Regions from separate parts of the Homo sapiens genome. Here region 2 is linked to region 1. The links come from fine-mapping of genetic effects on gene expression. Tissue or cell type: whole blood. Region 1 holds a variant in brackets; the other region holds the start of a gene. All regions are shown on one strand. Distances are from middle to middle.

Region 1 (9,838 bases):
GGCTCACGCCGGTAATCCCCAGCACTTTGGGAGGCCGAGGCGGGTGGATCACGAAGTCAGGAGATCAAGACCATCCTGGTTAACACAGTGAAACCCCGTCTCTACTGAAAATACAAAAAATTAGCTGGGCATGGTGGCAGGCGCTTGTAGTCCCAGCTACTCGGGAAGCTGAGGCAGGAGAATGGCGTGAACCCAAGAGGCGGAGCTTGCAGTGAGCTGAGATTGCGCCACTGCACTCCAGCCTGGGCGACAGAGCGAGACTCCTTCTCAAAAAAACAACAAAAAACAAAAAAGCAAGATATTGGGGTACTGCAGATAGCAGGAGATTAAAGTTCCACTAGGCCCTGGGGAGCTATTCCACAGGGACACCTGCTCTATAAAACACTCTCCTCCAGGACTAACCCCATCCAACACCATCACCACCACCTAGCAACAGTCCCACCTCACCTTGAGGCGCGTCTGGACTCTCTGTTGTACCCTGGGGGCCTGGGGTACTTCAGGCTTGCTCTCTGTAGGGCAGACTTCCTCAAACACCGTGAAGGGGACATGAGGGCCAGCTTGCCTGATCCGGTCTGGGGGTTTAGGTGTGCAGGGCAGTCCTCTACCTTCCAGACCTTTCTGAGAGGTATTATTGAGGCGCAGGGGAGCAGAGGCTAACTTTTGGCGCCCTCGTCCAGAACGTTTTTGGCCCTGAGTCTTAGAGGGCTCTGAGCCAGGGACACTTTTTATTAATGGTGGCTGCCAGCCCCAGGAGCTTGCAAAAAGTTGGGTAGTACAGCAGCTGAGGCCACCTAGTTTTGTGAGGGCCCAAATCAAGAGCAGGCTGGCTCGCCAGGGCTCTAGGTGGGGTATCCGTGCTGCTACAAACTTCAGCCCTGACTGTAGAACCTTCTGCAGGCTCTCGTTTGATGGCTGGTTCAGGCCCTCCAGTGCCAACAGTGTGTATGCTTGAGCCAAGATCTCATCCAAGAGGCTTGGAACCAAGGAGGGGGGTGTTTTATGATTCAGGGAAGCTTGGAGAGCTTGGGTGAGGCGCTCAGCGGCTTCAGGACAGCCCTTCAGCACGACCTGCAGCAGATCCAGACCCTGGGCTTGGTGGCCCATGGCCAGCCTCACCCCTGCCGTGACCAATACCCAGCGCAGACAGACTGCTGTGAGGACAGGGCTGGCGCAGAGCGAGCAGTCACAGGTGGGTGAATGGGACAGGAAGTTGGGTATGGGCTGGGGCTTGGTTTTCAAGACTGGGGAGGAGTTTGTAGAAGGTGCTATGGGGCCAGGCTCCTTGGCCACAGTGGCCACCAGCTCTAGAGCAGGGCCTCTTAGGAAGAGCTCCTCCTCTGGGAGCTGTGGAGGACAGGGGACCTGGGCCTGCTGCTTCCCCTTCTGCAGGTGGACCTTCTTCACAGAGTCCAGGTGCTGAGTCACCCCACCAAACTCTGGGGAGAAGGCAGAACAAGAATTACAAAACGGGGAGAAATGGCATCAAGCACTTCCTGAGCGACCTTGGGGCCCAATTCTCTAATATATGTGTTTTATATACGTACGTGTATATATATGTGTGTATATATATGTATTACTGTATAACATATCAAATATTAGTATGGCTTATTATTTTTTAGGTAAAATCTTTTTCTTTTTTTCTTTTTTTTTTGAGATGGAGTCTCTCTCTGTCGCCCAGGCTGGAGTGCAGTGGCACAATCTCAGCTCACTGCAAGCTCCGCCTCCCGGGTTCATGCCATTCTCCTGCCTCAGCCTCCCGAGTAGCTGGGACTACAGGCGCCCACCACCACGCCCGGCTAATTTTTTGTATTTTTTAGTGGAGACGGGGTTTCACCGTGTTAGCCAGAATGGTCTCGATCTCCTGACCTTGTGATCCGCCCGCCTTGGAGGTAAAATTTTTGTTTTCTTTCCAACCAACAATGGATCAAATGCAGGCCACAAAGCCCCCACACCTGCAGCTCAGGGGCCACATGGCTGAGAAAAGCAGGCTGGCCCCAGCAGGCCCACACCTGAATCCTGCCTCCTACCCTGTGATGCTGGCCCCAAACATAGACTTCTCAACTTTCTCATTTAACAAATGAAAATAATCTATGCTCCCACTCAGCTTTATGAGGTCTAGTGTGGGGCAAATGAAGTACTAGAAGTATATGTGATTGGGGAGACAAAATGTGCCATCAATGCAATGTTTTATTATTAGCTTCAGCCCTCCTGAGGATATGTTTGTGCTACTCAATACGGTAGCCACTAGCCATGTGGCTATTGAGCACATGAAGTGTGGCTAGTGTGACTGAGGACTGAATTCTAAATATTATCTTTCTTTCTTTCTTTCTTCTTTTTTTTTTTTTTTTTGAGTCAGAGTCTCGCACTGTCACCCGGGCTGGAGTGCAATGGTGCAATCTTCCTCACTGCAACCTCCGCCTCCCAGGTTCAAGCTATTCTCCTGCCTCAGCCTTCTGAGTAGCTGGGATTACAGGTGCCCGCCACCATGCCTGGCTAATTTTTGTATTATTAGTAGAGATGGGGTTTCACTTTGTTGGCCAGGCTGGTCTTGAACTCCTGACCCCATGATCCGCCTGCCTCAGCCTCCCAAAGTGCTAGGATTACAGGCATGAGCCACCGAGCCCGGCCCTAAATATTATCTAAATCAAATTTAAATAGCCAAAATGTATTAGGAAGCACTGAAAACTAGAACTAGGGTAAGTCTGGGACAGGCTCTCTGAAAGAGGGAGACCAATGGTTGGACTAAAGTCAAGGGAATGTTGCCCTGGGACCAGAAGTCAGTATCTGATTAAAAAGGGAACAAAGGCCGGGAGCGGTGGCTCATGCCTGTAATCCCAGCACTTTAGGAGGCCGAGGCGGGTGGATCACCTGAGGTCAGGAGTTCGAGACCAGCCTGGCCAACATAGTGAAACCTCATCTCTACTACAAATAAAAAAAATTATCCGGGTGTGGTGGCGCATGCCTGTAGTCCCAGCTACTTGGGAGGCTGAAGCAGGAGAATCACCTGAACCTAGGAGGCAGGAGGCAGGGGTTGCAGTGAGCCAAGATCACGCCACTGCACTCCAGCCTGGGTAATAAAGTGAGACTCTGTCTCAAAAATAAAAAAAGGCAACGAAACCTTTACATAGAAAGATGTGCTGTAGTGTGTGTCATTTCAGCACCGCCTATGGTCATGGGGACATGGCTGCTCACCTGTGCAAGACTCAAGCAAGAACAGAACCTGCTGCAGGTCCGACTGACAGAGATCAATGTCATTGCGGGCCAGCTCCAGCTCGCCCTTCAGCACCAGGAACAGGGCACACCTTGTTGAGAGAGGAGAGGAGAACCAATCAGAGGAATCCTTTGTTTTCCTGGAGAGTCTTTCTCTTTGCCTCTTTCCCAGGCCAAGCTACCTGAGTCCTTCCCTGCCTCCAAAAGGCATTCACTCCCTTAAGCTGACTTAAAGGCTCCCTGGGGAAAACCCTCTACACTTCTCTCTAATCCCAACTCTCCTTGTGCCTTGGGACAGGATTTCCCAAACTGCATTCCTCAATAAAAGAATCCTGTGGGAAAACATTCTTAGGGAAACACTGTACACTAGATCTCCCTTTTGGAGATTTGCAAGGCACATCCGCATACTGAAGGACACGAGAGTCCTACAGGAAATAAAAACATCTAACCTTGATTAACTCAGCATTTCCCACTTATTTAGCTGTGGAATGCCTTTTTCCACGAATGTATCTAAACATAGCATGTAATCTGTGGAACAGTTTGGAATCCATGTTCAAGGGTGCATGGCACTTTGGTGCCATCATTGCCATATCCTCTGGCCCTGTACTTACTGGCGTGGTATCTGCAGCTTTGTTGTAAGTTTTAGGGCCTCCAAGCAAAAGGCCTTGGCTTCACTCACACTACCCAGGCGGCCCAGGTGGCAGACCAGCTTCTCTGAGCAGCTCAGCACCTCTGAAAGAACCTGCCATTTTTGTACCAGATTTTCACCTGTAGCAAAAGAGACAAGACCACCATCACTCAGCCACAGTGTGGATCCTCTGGAGAAAAAACCGCAGCCCTCTCACATAGCCTGTCCATTCCAAGAGGGCCCTGCTGTCCTCCCCAGACTCACCATAGTCCAAAAACGATGTCTCCACAGCTGCTTTCTGAGTTGAGAGAATGTCACTGCCCATCAGCAGGAGGATGATGCTTCGGAGGAGCTTATGGGAGTCTATGAGAGCTATCTCAGGTGTCTGCCAGCCTGTGGTGGGTGGGGTGAAAAAGGGAGAAGATGCAGCCAGAACTTCACCACTTTTAGCTACTAAGGCAGCAAAGCCTGCTTCCCATGCTTCCTTCTGCATTAAGGCAGGCAGAGCTAATCAATCTCATAACTCCTTCCCTCTGAGATCCCCTGGGGTCTCAGAATCCTTTCAGCTGGCTGGGCGCAGTGGCCCAAGCCTGTAATCCCAGCATTTTGGGAGGCTGAGGCAGACGGATCACCCGAGGTCAGGAGTTTGAGACCAGCCTGGCCAACATGGTGAAACCCCACCTCTACTAATAATACAAAAATTAGTCGGGCGTAGTGGCGCATGCCAGTAATCCCAGCTACTCAGGAGGTTGAGGCAGGAGAATCGTTTGAACCCAGGAGGCAGAGGTTGCAGTGAGCTGAGATTGCACCATTGCACTCCAGCCTGGGTGACAACAGCGAAACTCCGTCTTAGAAAAAAAAGAAAAGAAAAAAAAATCCTTTCAGCCTAGTATTCCAGGCAGTCACCAATTGTTTAGAGTCAGCAGGCAAACTGAAACCCATCTGCTATCCCAGGCCTACTCTGTGCAGGTTCTAGGTAGGCTGGGCCACATAGTTAGCCAGCAGAGGGGATGAGGTTTGAGAAGAGCTGACAGCAGACAGACCATACATGTCATCCAAGGGGGGCCATCCACCCTATTCTTTCACCTTGGGCACAGAGCTGCTCCCACAGGGAGTGTGAGAGGTTGTTTGACGGGAGGCTAAGGTAAGCTGCCACCAGCTGCAGGACCTGGACACGCAGCAAGTACCAAGCCTTGGAGGACTTCTGGAGGGCAGGATCCCGAAGCACAGACAGCAGCAGAGAGACACCCTTGGTCACCTGAAGGAGAGAAGGAGCCAGAGGAGGCAGTAAGGCAGTCAGGCACTCCAGAGCTTGAGAGGCCCTGGAGATTACGTGGCCCCATCCCTGAAGGCCCTGGGTATTAGAAAGATTTTAGAATTTTCTGAATATTTGCCTGGCTTTCGAGATCTCCCTGGACCTAGGCAGAATGTTCCTGACCCTGAGAAGCAGTAACAGTTCCTAGCTTTGCCCTCACCAGTGACTTGTCCGCCAATTTAGGAATGATAAAAACGTAGAGAAGAAACTAGAGCATGAGAAGGTAGAAGACGTGCCCAAGTCACACAACTAGTTTGGGAGAAAACTCAAGTCTTTGCCATCCCCTGGATTTCTAGTCCAGAGCTCCCATGCCTTCCCAGGATCACCATTGTCCCAGCTTTTCGTCACAGGACAGACTTTCCCCCTTGCCCCTGAAGAAGGAAAAGGACTGTATCTCTACCAGAGGAGGACTGGTGAGCAAATCGCTGGCGAGGGCAAGGCTAGGAAATATGCCTGCCTCTCAGGGTCAGGAACATACTGCCTAGCTCCAGGGAAATCTCAAAAGCCAGGCAAATATCAAGAAAATCCTAAATTCTTTCTAATACCCAGGGCCTTCGGAGTTTAAGAAAGTGAGAAATACCTTCTGGTGAGTCCAGTAGAGTTGACTTCGAAGCAGATCACAGGTCAGGGAAAGGAGCAGGTATGTGTCAGTAGTCTGATCGAGATGCTTCAGGCTCGATGCTGCCTCTTCCAGGTGTAACTAAGGAAGCAATCAGAGGGCACATGAGGAAAGGCAGCCAGGCTCTTCAAACAAAACTGGAGTAAATAAGGGTGGCCATGTGGCTCACACCTGTAATCCCAGCACTTTGGGAGGCCAAGGTGGGCGGATCACCTGAGGTCAGGAGTTCAAGACCAGCCTGGCCAACATGGTGACACCCCCATCTCTACTAAAAATACAAAAATTAGCCAGGTGTGGTGGCACGCGCCTGTAATCCCAGCTACTCGGGAGGCTGAGGCATGAGAATCACTTGAACCCGAGAGGCAGAGGTTGCAGTGAATGGAGATCGCGCCACTGCACTCCAGCCTGGGCAACAGAGTGAGACTCCGTCTCAAAAAAAAAAAAAAAAAAAAAGTGGAGTAAAGTATTTACAAGCAAAATGTTCAACATGTCCAATAAATATTACATTATTTCAGATATTATAATCTGCATAGGAGTTATTGATTCACTCTCTAAAATGTCCATTTAACACTTGGTTAACCACTTTTTTTTTTTTAGGACGGAGTTTCGCTCTTGTTGCCCAGGCTGGAGTGCAATGGTGTGATCTCAGCTCACCGCAACCTCCGCCTCCCGGGATCAAGTGCTCTCCTGTCTCAGCCTCCCAGGTAGCTGGGATTACGGGCATGCGCCACCATACCTGGCTAATTTTGTATTTTTAGTAGAGACGGGGTTTCTCCATGTTGGTCAGGCTGGTCTCCAACTCCTGACCTCAGGTGATCTGCCCACCTCAGCCTCCCAAAATGCTGGGATTACACGTGTGAGCCACTGCGCTCAGCCTGGTTAACCACTTTTAGATTAAAGCTATATACAGAGTAAGCAGTAGCTGGGCACGGTGGCTCATGCCTGTATTATCAGTACTTTGGGAGGCTGAGGTGGGAGATCACTTGAGCCCAGGAGTTCAAGACCAGCCTGGGCAACATAGTGAGACTCTGTCTCTACAAAACATTTAAAAATTAGCCAGGTGTGGTGGCATGTACCTGTAGTCCCAGTTACTCGGGAGGGTGACGTGGAAGTGGAAATGGAAATGGAAATG[GAAATGA/A]CACCACTAAAAACAGAATGCTATAAACAGAATGATGTCTTCTGTTTCCAAAGTCAATATACTAGAGTGATGCAAAAATAGTAAGAGTGAGATATTTTGTGGCAAAGTTATCCAGGGGTAAACACTGCAGCCGTAAGCGCTGGCAAGTATTATTGGGGCAAAAGGGAACAGGGTTAAGCAGGAAAGAGATTACATCACACCTGTGCCTACCAGTGGTCGTTAAGAAGACGAAGTAGAAAAGGGAGAAACTGGAGGCAAGGAGACCAACCAGGAGACACTGTGATAGCTTTACATGAGCAATGAAGCATCAACTAGGGCAACAGAACCAGTTAGGAAATACAAGACTGGCGGTAGGTTCCTGCAGCAGTCTGTAAACTTAATGAACAACTGGTTTTGCAGGAAGGACAAAGATGACTCCCCTTCTTACAGCTGCCTCCAACTGCTCCACACTCCACAATTCTCCAGCCAGTTGTGGTGGTAAAAGGCCGAGAAGCTGCCCCTTTGATATCCTGTCTTCTCAGAGGTGGGCCTCTAAAGCTACGGGCCCCCTGCAGTCCCCAGACTAGGCTGGTTGGGCACTCACCTGGGCATAGCTGGGACAGCCGAGGGTCAGGAGGAGCTGGGTGATGTGGCAGGAGGAGCCAGCTGCCTTCGAGTGGTCCTTCAGTCTCTCAGAGACAATCCGTAGCAGCAGGAGGACCTCCAGAGCCTGCATGGGCTGGTCAGCAGAAGCAGCCAAGTTTACTCCACCCCTGCTCAAGCCTCTATTTCTACCCTCTGCTCCCCAGCCCTTTGGGACCTTGGACTGTAGTTTGACCTCAGGGCCTGGGTGGAATGTAGTTACCCAGATGAAGCAATCATCACCCCACCCCTACTGTTTTAAAGCCTAGATGCCATTCATCATCAATAGCCAGGATTTTCTGAGTTCTTACTATGTGCCAGGCACTGTGCCCAGGCTTACATGCATCAGTGCATTTAACCTTCATAACAAGTCTAATCCCAATTTTACAGTACAGGAAGCTAAGACTCACATGGGTTAAGTTGCTTGTCTAAGTTCATATAACAGGTATGTGGCAGAACCAAGTCTCAAATCTAGGGCTGAGGTAGCTTCCCCTGCTAGAAATATGGTTTAATAGCTCATAGTTAACAGCATGTATAAAGGCTTTTTGTTTGTTTGTTTGTTTCCTAATGTGGAGTCTAGGGTAGAGCTTCAGGAATTTTGTGAAACTCCCTGAAATAAGAATGTACATGGCCTTATAGGCCAGGCACAGTGGCTCATGCCTGTAACCCCAGCACTTTGAAAGGCTGAGGCAGACGGGTCACCTGAGATCAGGAGTTCGAGATCAGCCTGGCCAACATAGTGAAACCCCATCTCTACCAATAATACAAAATTAGCAGGGTGTGGTGGTATGCGCCTGTAGTCCCAGCTACTCAGGAGGCTGAGTGAGCCAGGAGAATCGCTTGAACCCAGGAGGTGGAGGTTGCAGTGAGCTGAGATCACGCCACTGCACTCCAGCCTGGGTAACAGAGCAAGACTCTATCTCGGCGGGGGGGCGGGGCGGAAAGCTGGGTGCGGTGGCTCACGCCTGTAATCCCAGCACTTTGGGAGGCTGAGGCGGGTGGATCACCTGAGGAGATCGAGACCGGCCTGGCCAATATGGTGAAACCCTGTCTATACTAAAAATACAAAAAAGTAGCCAGGCGTGGTTGCGTGCCTGTAGTCCCAGCTACTCAGGAGGCTGAGGCAGGAGAATCACTTGAACCCAGATGGCGGAAGTTGCAGTGAGCCCAGATTGCGCCACTGCACTCCAGCCTGGGCGACAGAGTGAGACTCCATCTTGAAAAAAAAAAAGAAGGCACACATAAGAATGTAAGAATGTAAAATTGTGTCTAAAGGCATCTATGTATTTTTCTGATAGGTAACAAATCATCTAATAATTAAAGCTAACTTTTTTTTTTTTAATGAAATAGCGTGAAACAGCATCTTGCTCTGTCCCCCAGGATGGAGTGCAGTGGCGCGATCTTGGCTCACTGCAACCTCTACCTCCTGGCTCAAGGGATTCTCCTGCCTCAGCCACCTGAGTAGCTGGGATTACAGGCACATGCCACCGCACCGGGCTATATTTTTTTTATTTCTTGTAGAGACGGGGTTTCGCCGTGTTGCCCAGACTAAAGCTAACATTTGAGCATACCATTTACACAATACCTCTTCCATGCACTGCTGCACTGAATAATAACGCCACGAGGCAGTAGCATGGCCCCTATTTTAGAGATAAGGAAACTTGGGCTTAGGTTAAGCAACTTGCCCAAGGCCATACACTAATGAATGAGGGAGCTTGGATTTAAAATAAGACTGGTGATACAGCCCTGCGCTTCCATCACTGGCTTTCATGGCTTCTCAGGAGGATCACAGGCCAAAGAAGGCGAGGGAGCTGTTTCTGGTCTAGTCCTTGTTTATATGGGTCCCCCTCAATGCCCCACCCCATTACCTTTGCCACCAGCTGGTAGAGGGCTGCTAGGATCTGCAGTGAGGCTGCTGTCTGCTGGAGACACCGTACAGCTGGGGCCTGCCCCTTTGTAAGCAGCTCCTTCCACAGGGCCAGGGCTTGGTCCAGGCATTTGGACTGAGCTGTTAAGCCAGAAGAAAATGACTGCTGTCTCAGCATGGGCCATCTGGAGAGAACTTCCCTTCCTCCATAACATCCTCTGCCCTTTACGCCAACCTCCCACTGCTTCCACAACCTCCTACCCTACAAGGTCAGGGTTTCCCTCACCAGGGGTCCCTGTTCCACTCTTAGGAAGCCATGGAGATGCCCATGCCACACTCCATTTACCCCTCACCAGCATCTGCAGCCAGGTTGAAGGCAATGTTACTGTATAGGAAACGATCTTCCTGGAGTTTATCTTCATAGTTCAGGTCATTGACTT
Region 2 (9,903 bases), 31 kb after region 1:
AGCTAAAGGAATCTCATTAGTCTCCCCTACCCCTCTATTTCCATATCACTTAGGAATGTGAGGGCCACTAATAATTACTGTCAGGCCAGGTGTGGTGGCTCACACCTGTAATCCCAGCACTTTGGGAGGCTGAGAAGGGAGGATGGCTTGAACCCAGGAGTTTCAGATGAGCCTGGGCAACATAGACCCTTGTCTCTACAAAAATTTTTAAAAAATTAGCTGGGTATGGTGGTGCTGCCTGTAGTCCCTACTACTTGGGAGGCTAAGGTGGGAGGATCGCTTGAGCCCAGGAGGTCGAGGCTGCAGTGAGCCATGATCCTGCCACTACACTCTGGCCTAGGCGACAGAGCGAGACCCTATCTCAAAAACAAAATAAAACAAAAACCGATAATAATGATATTGTCATCCAAAACAACAAATCACCAAGTGTCTCCTGAAAAGCCAGGTGTGAGCTAGCCTGTCTCCTCTCCAGATATGTACTGAGCACAGCCATGGGGAAAGCATCCAATTGTGTGTATATATGCAGGAGATAAAGGTGAGTAAGACTGTTTCCTCTTCCCCTCAAGATCATAGCATGATCTTGAGACGGAACATCTACAAATAACTATAAAGTATATCTAGGTCTAGCCCAACAGGGCAGAAAGAGGAAGTGGAGTTATTGCAAGACTGTCTTTAGTCTTGAGATGATGGGTGGCAGGAGTAGGGGGGTAGTAGAAAAGATGCCTTTTCTTTTTTTTTGTTTTTTGAGACAGTCTCATTCTGTTGCCCAGGCTGGAGTGCAGTGGCGTGTCTCAATTATCACTCACTGCAGCCTCGATCTCCCAGGCTCAATTGATCCTCCCACCTCAGCCTCCCAAGTAACTCAGACCATGGGCACATGCCACTACGCACAGCTAATTTTTGTATTTTTTGTAGAGACGGGGTTTCGCCGTGTTGCCCAGGCTGGTCTCAAACTCCTGGGCCTCCCAAAGTGCTGGGATTACAGGTGTAAGTCACCACACCTGGCTGATATGTGTTTTTCTTACTTAACCTCAACCTCTATTCCCTGAAGCCTGGGTGGGGGAACATGTTTTTTCCTAGTCTGAGTAGGGACCTGAGACCACCACCCATTCCTCCCCTTGGCCTCACCCTGCAGAAGCCCTTCCACCCTGCATTCCACCAGCACCTGCTGATGCTATCTCTCCACACAGGTTGGGACCTGCAGGTCTTGGAACATCCTGCATCTTTCTGAGTAGTCTGGGACCCAAGGAAAGGTCATTAACCCCTTTCCAGAAAGGGTATGTGTCCCCCATGCCCATCTCAAGCACATTCCAGGACACATCCTTGAGCCTACCCTCCTTCCCTCCCCACCCTTCTTAAAGCTGGCTGTGCTTCCCCTGAGAAGCCCAGGTTTTGGTGGGAGGAGGAAAGGCAGATACAATCAGAGGTGAGGCAGGGAGGCACCCACAGAACTGGCTCACTAGTACTGTTTCCTGCCCTGATGGCTCCCTCACCCTCATTCAGGCTGGGTTGGGGACAGTCAGGTACAGATAAGACATCCTAGTCCCTCAGCCATGCACCACTCTGTCCCCTTGGCAGCCTTTCACTTCGGTTTCACACAGGGATACAGGATCTGGTAGACCCAGATGATGTTGGACAAATGGTGCATTCATAGCCACAGAGGCAAAAGGGAGGCAGCAGGCCTGTGCTGAGCTGCAAGCTTACTTTGGTAGGAAGGGCCCTGGCTTTGCCCAAGGAGTGGTCACAGCAGCAGCCCAAGCCCCTGGAATCTTTGCTCAGTGGCCTGGCATATGGGGCATCTACTCCATGTGCTCTGGAGATCATCTTACCCTGGATGTAAGCAAGGGTTCTGCTTGACAACTGGGGGGAGTGCCTGTCCCACAACAGAGGAATGTGGAGGACCTAGAAGCCTCAGGCCCTTCCCACACAGCTCTGCTGAGAGCAATTCCATAGTTCTCAGTTTGAACTGGAGACAGCCTTGGAGAAGTTAGAAACAGAAAACTTTTGCTGATAATCCCACCTCAAAACCTCTAGCTGGGCTGGGCGTGGTGGCTCATGCCTGTAATCCCAACACTTTGGGAGGCCGAGGTGGGTGGATCACCTGAAGTGAGGAGTTCGAGACCAGCCTGGTCAACATGAAACCCCATCTCTATTAAAAATACAAAAATTAGCTGGGCATGGTAGCAGGCACATGTAATCCCAGCTACTTGGGAGGCTGAAGCAGGAGAATTGCTTGAATCCGGGAGGCGGAGGTTGCAGTGAGCCAAGATCGCGCCATTGCACTCCAGCCTGGGCGACAGAGCAAGACTCCGTCTCAAAACAAAAACAAACAAAACAAAACAAAAAAAAACTAAAAAAAAAACCTCTAGCTGCCCACTCACCAGAAACTACTGATAAGGCTACAGGTAAGGATGAGTAAATCAAATCAATGATCATTTAAAAGTGTTTATTTTCTAAATGGGAGTAACACAGAGGGAACTTTTGGCACCTTCTTTCCAGTCCATCACCCCCATCATGTCCTCCCAAACACAAAGCAATGGCAGGAGAAACCACAGGACAGTCACAAAGTCAGTCACAGAGAGATCTGTACAATCCCGGATAGCTGGAATTCAAGAGTCTGTCCCAGCTATCTTGTCCTGGAGTGGGGTTACAGCTCAGGGGCATAGGGCTCCTCAGTAGGTGAAGGTACCCGCAGCTCAGCATCATGCCTTACCACGGTGAAGAGTCCCACCACTGCCAGCAGAGCCATCACCATGACAGCAGAGCAAATGCTGAACATATTCCGAGTGCCTGTTTTTCGATCACTGTCATGGAGGACAAGGAGCCCTAGGCAAGCCAGTGAGTGCAGAGGTACCCGGAACCAGTTGAGTACACCAGCCTGCTCTGTCTCAGGGATCACCTTTCTCCGTAGGAAGCTCATGCTGGGAAAGTATAATCCACAAGCCAACTCAATAAGTAGAAAGGCTATGAAGGACTCCACCGGACTCTCCTGGCCTGGGCTGGTAGAGAAAGTCAACATGAAGAGAGAGAAGACGACGATGAGCACAGCAAGGGACAGCAGGTGCATGGGCTGAAGGTGGTACCTCTTGGAGGTGGCGATACGGTACAGGGAAGAGCCAAGCAGGCTGGCTGCCATGAAGCTGGAGAAGATAATGCCCAGAGGGGCCCCGTGTGGGTCCAGCACAGGTGTCCAGAGGAAGACAAAGATGAAGATGACACTCTCAAATAGAGCTTGTATGGTGCCCAACAGCAGCACGCGGCGGTCCGACAGGAGGCAGCGCAGGCCTCCAGCACAGGTCCTTGAGAAGGCACGCTGCCGGTCATAGTTCTCCCCCCAGTTTCGAAGGGCCAAGGCCCCTGCCAGAGCCAGGAGAGGGATGGCAGCCACAAAGGGCGCTACAGGCCCCAGCCCTATCCAGCTGGCTACAGCCTCAGCTGCCACACCTGCCACTACAGCCAGCACATGGTTCCAGAAGGCAGCTCGAGCAAAGGTAGCTGGGATCCACTCAGCAGGGAAGTCATGCCGTTCCACGTGCTCATGGATATACCAGGCCTCGAAGGCTGAGAAGAGCAGGGCTGTGGACAGCCCACCAAGTGCTCGCCCCACTAGCAGCACAAAGTAGTCTTGAGAGAGTTTGGTTAAGCAGCATAGTGAGTAAGTCAGGGAGAAGAGGACACAAGAATTCTTGCGACCCAGCCAATCCACAAGGGAGGAGGCCACTAGGCCAAAGAGGACTGTAGAGGCAAGGCCACAGACATAGAGGATGGCAATTTGACCTTCCAGGAAGTAGTAATGCTGGTAGAGTTTATAGAGGTAGGGGGCCTGAAGCCAATCAGCTGCCAGGGCCAGGAAGTAGACCTGATAGAAGTCCAGTTGAAACCGAAGGAAGGAGGGATTGCTGCAGGCCCTTCCAGGGGGTTTAGCCCGGCATCTTGACAGTTCCAGCCCCAGGCAGGAGGCCAGGAGGCCTACAAAAGCAAGGTAGGCAGTCACCAGCATGGTGGGCCCCCGGACGACCTGGGAAGAGAGGTGGGAGTCAGAGCCATATCCATCCTTCGGGCAGCACGGTCAAGGGGCTGTCTTAAGCAGATGGCAGCTCCACCCAACCCCGCTGCCAACTCCACTCCCCAAGATCTCAGACCGGAGGGACCAGTTGGGTGGGTGGGAGGAGTGGCCACGCCAAAGCTGTCTCCTAGGACACTGTGGGGCAGGGAGGGGTAAGAAGACAGGGGAGAGGACTGGGCACTCAACCCATCCTTGCCTGTGAAGAGGGAGTCCCTTTCAATAATCCCGCTCCCGCAAATTCTACTGCCCTTTCCCACAGCAGCTCCCGTACACTTCCTTCTATTACCTCCCGTCCTCGCTGCGGAGCCTCTTTTTGCCCTCAGTGTCTCATCCTCTGTCCCGGGCATCCCTCCCACCCGCGCAGGCCTCTCGAGTTGCTTCAGGGTCATGCGTGTGCATCTCAGAGGCCCACTCCTCCAGGTCACTGGCACCCCACTGCGCCCCCTAGCCCCTGCCCAGCCCTGCCACATCCACTTGCACCTCGCCCAGACTCCGCCTCACCTGCTGCCCCGGTCTGCGGGGACGCCCCGGACACGTCCGGCTCCAGGCCGCCAGGCCACCCTCCCCGCTGTGGCTCCGGCTCCGGCTCGGGTTCCAGCAGCGCTCCCGCCCCTCACAGCCTGCTTCCGGGAGCCGGGCAGGCCTCTGGCCGCCGCCATGATGGCTTCATCACGTGACGGGGGCGCGGCGCCAAAACCCCGCCCCGCCCCGCCCGCCCGCCCTCCTTCCCTTACCCGGGCGCGGAACTCCTGACGCCTGGGGTGGGTCGGGAAGGGGCGACCATAGGAGGCTGCGGTTGCTTCTCCTGGCCTGGCCTCGCTCGCTGCCATCCCGTGACACCTGCTCCTCTGGCTCTTGGATGCCTGAGGGGCCACCCTGAAATAAGTGCCAATTTTCTTTTCTTCCGTGCAGTGCTCGGGAAAGATGCCCGCAGTCCGGTAGAGCCAAGGGTTGGAGCTTCCTAAGGAACAGCACCGCTGCCCGAAGCCGAGAAGGTCTCCTTGGTTTGCCTCCTCTCCCACTGCAGTGACCTCCATGCAAGAGAAGCCAGTATGGTCCAGACACCTGAGGGAGGCGGTGTGGTGTAAAGAACTTGGAGTCGGGCTGCAGACAGACTAAGGCGCAGTCCTGCCCCTGTCACTTACCAGCTGTGTGGCCTTGGGCAAGCCGCATAACTTCCCAGTGTCCCAGTTTCTTTGAAGTCACAGGATAGCAATGCCCAAATAAAGAAGGCTAAAGTTCAGTGGCAGCATGGGGTTAAGAACTTCAGCCTTGGAGCTTAATTCCCTACCTTCTGCCACTTACAAGCTGTTTTACCTTGGAAAAACTATTTAACCTCTCTACAGCTTCCGTATCATCTCCTCAAGAGCCTCCAATGACTTCCCATCTCACTAAGGGTAAAAGCCGAAGTATTTATAATGGCCTACAAGACCCTCTGTCCTCTGACCCTCTGCCACTCCTCTGACTTCATCCCCTGCTCCTCTCCCTCCCATCTATGTTGGCTACCACCAGGGCTTTTGCACACTGTTCCCTGTACAGTTCTTCTCCAAGATATCCACGTGGTTCCCCCCCCCACCTCCTCCAGTTCTCTGTTCAAATGTCACCTGATCTTGGCTGGGCCTGGTGGCTCATTCCTGTAATCCCAGCAGTTTAGGAGGCTGAGGCAGGCCGATCAGTTGAGGTCAGGAGTTCAAGATCAGCCTGGCCAACATGGTGAAACCCCGTCGCTAGTAAAAAAATATAAAAATTAGCCAGGCATGGTGGTGGGCACCTGTAATCCCACCTACTCGGGAGGCTGAGGCAGGAGAATCGCTTGAACCAGGGAGGCAGAGGTTGCAGTGAGCCAAGATCACGCCACTGCACTCCAGTCTGGGTGACAGAGCGAGACTCTGTCTCACAAAAAAATAAAAAATAAAATAAAATTTTAAAAAATGTCACCTGATCAGAGGGGCCTTCCATGGCCCTCCTGTTTAAAATAGCAACACCACCACCTCCAGCACAGTAATCTACCTACTTTCCTTCCAATTTTCTATTCTCTCTGCTGCTTTTACTCTGCAGTACACTATGTATTTTCCTTGTTTATTTATTTACTATCTTGGCCAGGTGTGGTGGCTCACACCTGTAATCTCAACACTTTGAGAGGCCAAGGTGGGTGAATCACTTGAGGCCAGGAATTTAAGACCAGTCTGGCCAACATGTCGAAACCCCATGCCTACTAATAATACAAAAAATTGCTGGGCGCGGTGGCTCACACCTGTAATCCCAGCACTTTGGGAGGCCGAGGCGGGCGTATCATGAGGTCAGGAGTTCAAGACTAGCCTGGCCAATATGGCGAAACCCCGTCTCTACTAAAATTACAAAAAAATTTGCTGGGCATGGTGGTGTGCACCTGTAATCCCAGCTACTTTGGAGGCTGAGGCAGGAGAATTGCTTCAACCTGGGAGGCAGAGGTTGCGGTAAGCCGAGATTGCACCACTGCACTCCAGCCTGGGCAACAGAGCAAGACTCCGTCTCAAAACAAATAAACAAAAAAATTAGCTGGGCCTGGTGGTGCGCGCTTGTAATCCCACCTACTCAGGAGGCTGAGGTACGAGAATTGCTTGAACCTGGGAAGCGGAGGCTGCAGTGAGCCAAGATTACACCACTGCACTCCAGCCTAGGGGACAGAGCAAGACTTCGTCTCTAAGTAAATAAGTAAATATTTACTATCTCTTTCCCTACAGATTTTTATCTGTTTTGTTCACCTGTATTCCCTATACTTAAAGCAGTCATTGATAAGTATTAATCATAAATATTCCATAAATAGTCTATGAATAAATGAATAAGTTATGTAAATTACTATCAAAAGTACTGGCCCATATTAACATAATAACACTTATCAGTTATTATGTACCTAAGGAGTTTTAAGAAGGTTTAGTCCAACTGCTGTAGGTGAATTATCTCATCTGACTGACAACAATCCATACAGTAGGTACTAACCAGAGTTGGAAAGGTTAGGTAACATGTTTAGAGTTACATAGTAAAAGGCAGTTAGAAGCAGGACCCAATCTTTCCAGTTCCAAGCTCACATAGTTTCTGCAATTATACTAGTTCACCTACTTGCGCAGCAGATCAGTCTTTTTTTTTTTTTATTTGAGACGGAGTTTCACTCTTGTTGCCCAGGCTGGAGTGCAATGGCGTGATCTCAGCTCACTGCAACCTCCGGCTCCCGGGTTCAAGCGATTCTCCTGTCTCAGCCTCCCAAGTAGCTGGGATTACAGGCATGCGCCACCACCCCCAGCTAATTTTGTATTTTTTAGAGACAGGGTTTCTCCACGTTGGTCAGGCTGGTCTCGAACTCCCAACCTTAGGGGATCCGCGCCCGGCCTGTTGGTTTTTTTTTTTTTTTATACTAAAGCTTAGAGGTAGGGTAGGAGGGTTTGGGATTACATCTGGAGAAATACTTTCTTTTGGCCAGGCATGGTGGCTTACGCCTGTAATCCGAGCACTTTGGGAGGCCAATGTGGGTGGATTATTTGAAGTCAGGAGTTCCAGACCAGCCTGGCCAACATGGTGAAACCCCATCACTACTAAAAATACAAAAAGCTGGGCGATAGTGGCACACACCTGTAATCCCAGCTACTTGGGAGGCTGAGGCAGGAGAATCTCTTGAACTCAGGAGGCAGAGGTTGCAGTGAGCCGAGATCATGCCACTGCACTCCAGCCTGGGGGACAGAGTGAGACCCTGTCCCAAAAAAGTCTTGAACTTCTGGCCTTAAGGGTTCCACCCTCCTTGGCCTCCCAAAGTGCTGGGATTACAGGCATGAGCCACCGTGTCCAGCCTGGAGAAATACTTTCTTATGATAAAACAGCTGATTTACGCCCTACAAGTTCCAAAGCGCTTTCATCCCTAGCTGGCAAACTAGTGGAAAGTAGAAAGGGGTGATGGTTCCCATGCTTTCATCTAGAAACACTAAGATAGAAAATCATGATTTCTGACCAGGGGTGGTGGCTTGCGCCTGTAATCCCAGCACTTTGGGAGGCCAAGGTGGGCGGAACTCTTGAAGCCAGGAGTTCAAGACCAGCCTGGCCAACATGGCAAAACCCCATCTCTACAAAAAATACAAAAAAAATAGCCGGGCCATGGTGGTGCATGCCTGTAATCCCAGCTACTCAGGTGGCTGAGGCAGGAGAATCATTTGAACTCGGGAGGTGGAGGTTGCAGTGAGCCAAGATCGCATCACTGCACTCCAGCTTGGGCAACAGAGTGAGACTCTGTCTCAAATAAATAAATAAATAAATAAATCATGATTTCTGCTAGGCTTGGTGGCTCATATCTGTAACCCTAGCACTTTAGGAGGTTGAGGTGGGAGGATCTCTTGAAGCCAGGAGTTTGAGGCCAGCCTGGGCAACTAGGGAGACTCCTGTCTGGGCATGGTGGTGGGTGCCTGTAACCCCAGTTATTCCTGAGACATAGGCAGGAGGATTGCTTGAGCCCAGGAGTTCAAGGCTGCAGTGAGCTCTGATGGTATCACTGTACTTCAGCCTGGGTGACAGAACAAGCCCTGTCTTTTAAAAAGGAAAAAGCAGTGTATGGTGGCTTATGCCGGTAATCCCAGCATCCCAGCACTTTGGGAGGCCCAGGTGGGCAGATCACCTGAGGTCGGAAGTTCGAGATCAGCCTGACCAACATAGAGAAACCCCGTCTCTACTAAAAATACAAAATTAGTTGGGCAGGGTGGCACATGCCTGTAGTCCCAGCTACTCAGGAGGCTGAGGCAGGAGAATCGCTTGAACCTGGGAGGCAGAGGTTGTAGTGATCTGAGATCGCGCCATTGCACTTCAGCCTGGGCAACAAAAGCGAAACTCTGTCTCAAAAAAAAAAAAAAAAAAGGAAAAGGAAAAGAAAAAAGTCATGATTTCCCCAGGGTCACTCAGTAAGTGCCCTCCAGCCCAGTCCTGGGCTTCAGCCCCTTGAACTCATGACAGTGAGTCTCTGAATTCTTTCTTTCTTTTTTTTTTTTTTTTTTTTTTTTTTTTGAGACAGAGTCTTGCTCTGTTGCCTAGGCTGGAGTGCAATTATGTGATCTCAGCTCATTGCAACCTCTGCCTCCCAGGTTCAAGCGATTCTCCTGCCCCAGCCTCCCGAGTAGCTGAGACTATAGGCGTGTGCCACCACGCCCGGCTAATTTTTGTATTTTTAGTAGAGATGGGGTTTCACTGTGTTAGCCAGGATGGTCTCGATCTCCCGACCTTGTGATCCCCCTGCCTCGGCCTCCCAAAGTGCTAGGATTACAGGTGTGAGCCACTGCACCCGGCCTGAATTCTTAGTGGTATTTCCTTTGGGGTGGAGGTCATCCTGGATGAAGGCAGTGGATGAGACAGGATGACCTTACATCCCTTGCCTTCTATTTCACAAGATGGAGGCCAGTTTTCTACCATTATTGCATTGCATTTTGCTCAGAAGCACCTACTAGGGACCAAAAGCAAGATTATATTATTTTGGTTTATTTTTGTTTATTGTAGGACCTATTCAAAATATGTATACTCCTTAAGGTCTCTCTGGCCCCTCAGAGCTGTGAAGCATGGCTGGGAAAGCCCTAAATGTGGGGACTGCGCCAGCAGAGAACTACAGGGGATAAAGGGTGGCCTGGGTGGAGAGGAGAGAGAGCTGGGATCTGTGTGTGGGGAGCCAAAGAGGAAGTCCTGGCTTTCAGGGCAGGTGGGGAGGAAGCTCTGGGAGTTACTGGAAACCATGCTTACCAGAGGAACATCATTTAAAACTCTTTTATTATGGAAATGTTCAAACATACACAAAGGTAGAGAGCATAGTTCTATGAACTTCCATATTCTTTTTT

Evidence for each region. PIP is the estimated chance that this variant, and not a neighbour inherited with it, causes the effect.
Region 2: SLC61A1 starts here. The variant in region 1 is the best candidate, but not a certain one, in a credible set for the expression of SLC61A1 in whole blood (TOPMed, PIP 0.62).

What each region holds. Positions count from the first base shown.
Region 1 is chr12:53,277,522-53,287,359 of GRCh38, reverse strand. ESPL1 (extra spindle pole bodies like 1, separase) reads right to left here. Exons shown (of 31, transcript NM_012291.5): 10 at 9,752-9,838; 11 at 9,400-9,539; 12 at 7,494-7,628; 13 at 5,734-5,853; 14 at 4,925-5,096; 15 at 4,103-4,231; 16 at 3,822-3,978; 17 at 3,193-3,302; 18 at 448-1,436. Among named protein-coding and RNA genes, the nearest start is that of PFDN5, 13 kb to the left of the region's middle. The variant GAAATGA/A (reference allele first, on the strand shown) is at 6,905.
Region 2 is chr12:53,246,933-53,256,835 of GRCh38, reverse strand. It overlaps SLC61A1 (solute carrier family 61 member 1), which reads right to left and starts at 4,741. Exons shown (of 2, transcript NM_032889.5): 1 at 4,568-4,741; 2 at 2,430-4,018. The coding sequence starts at 4,000. The coding sequence ends at 2,648. RefSeq lists enhancers at 391-590, 4,224-4,895, 5,029-5,078 and silencers at 4,419-4,468, 4,479-4,758.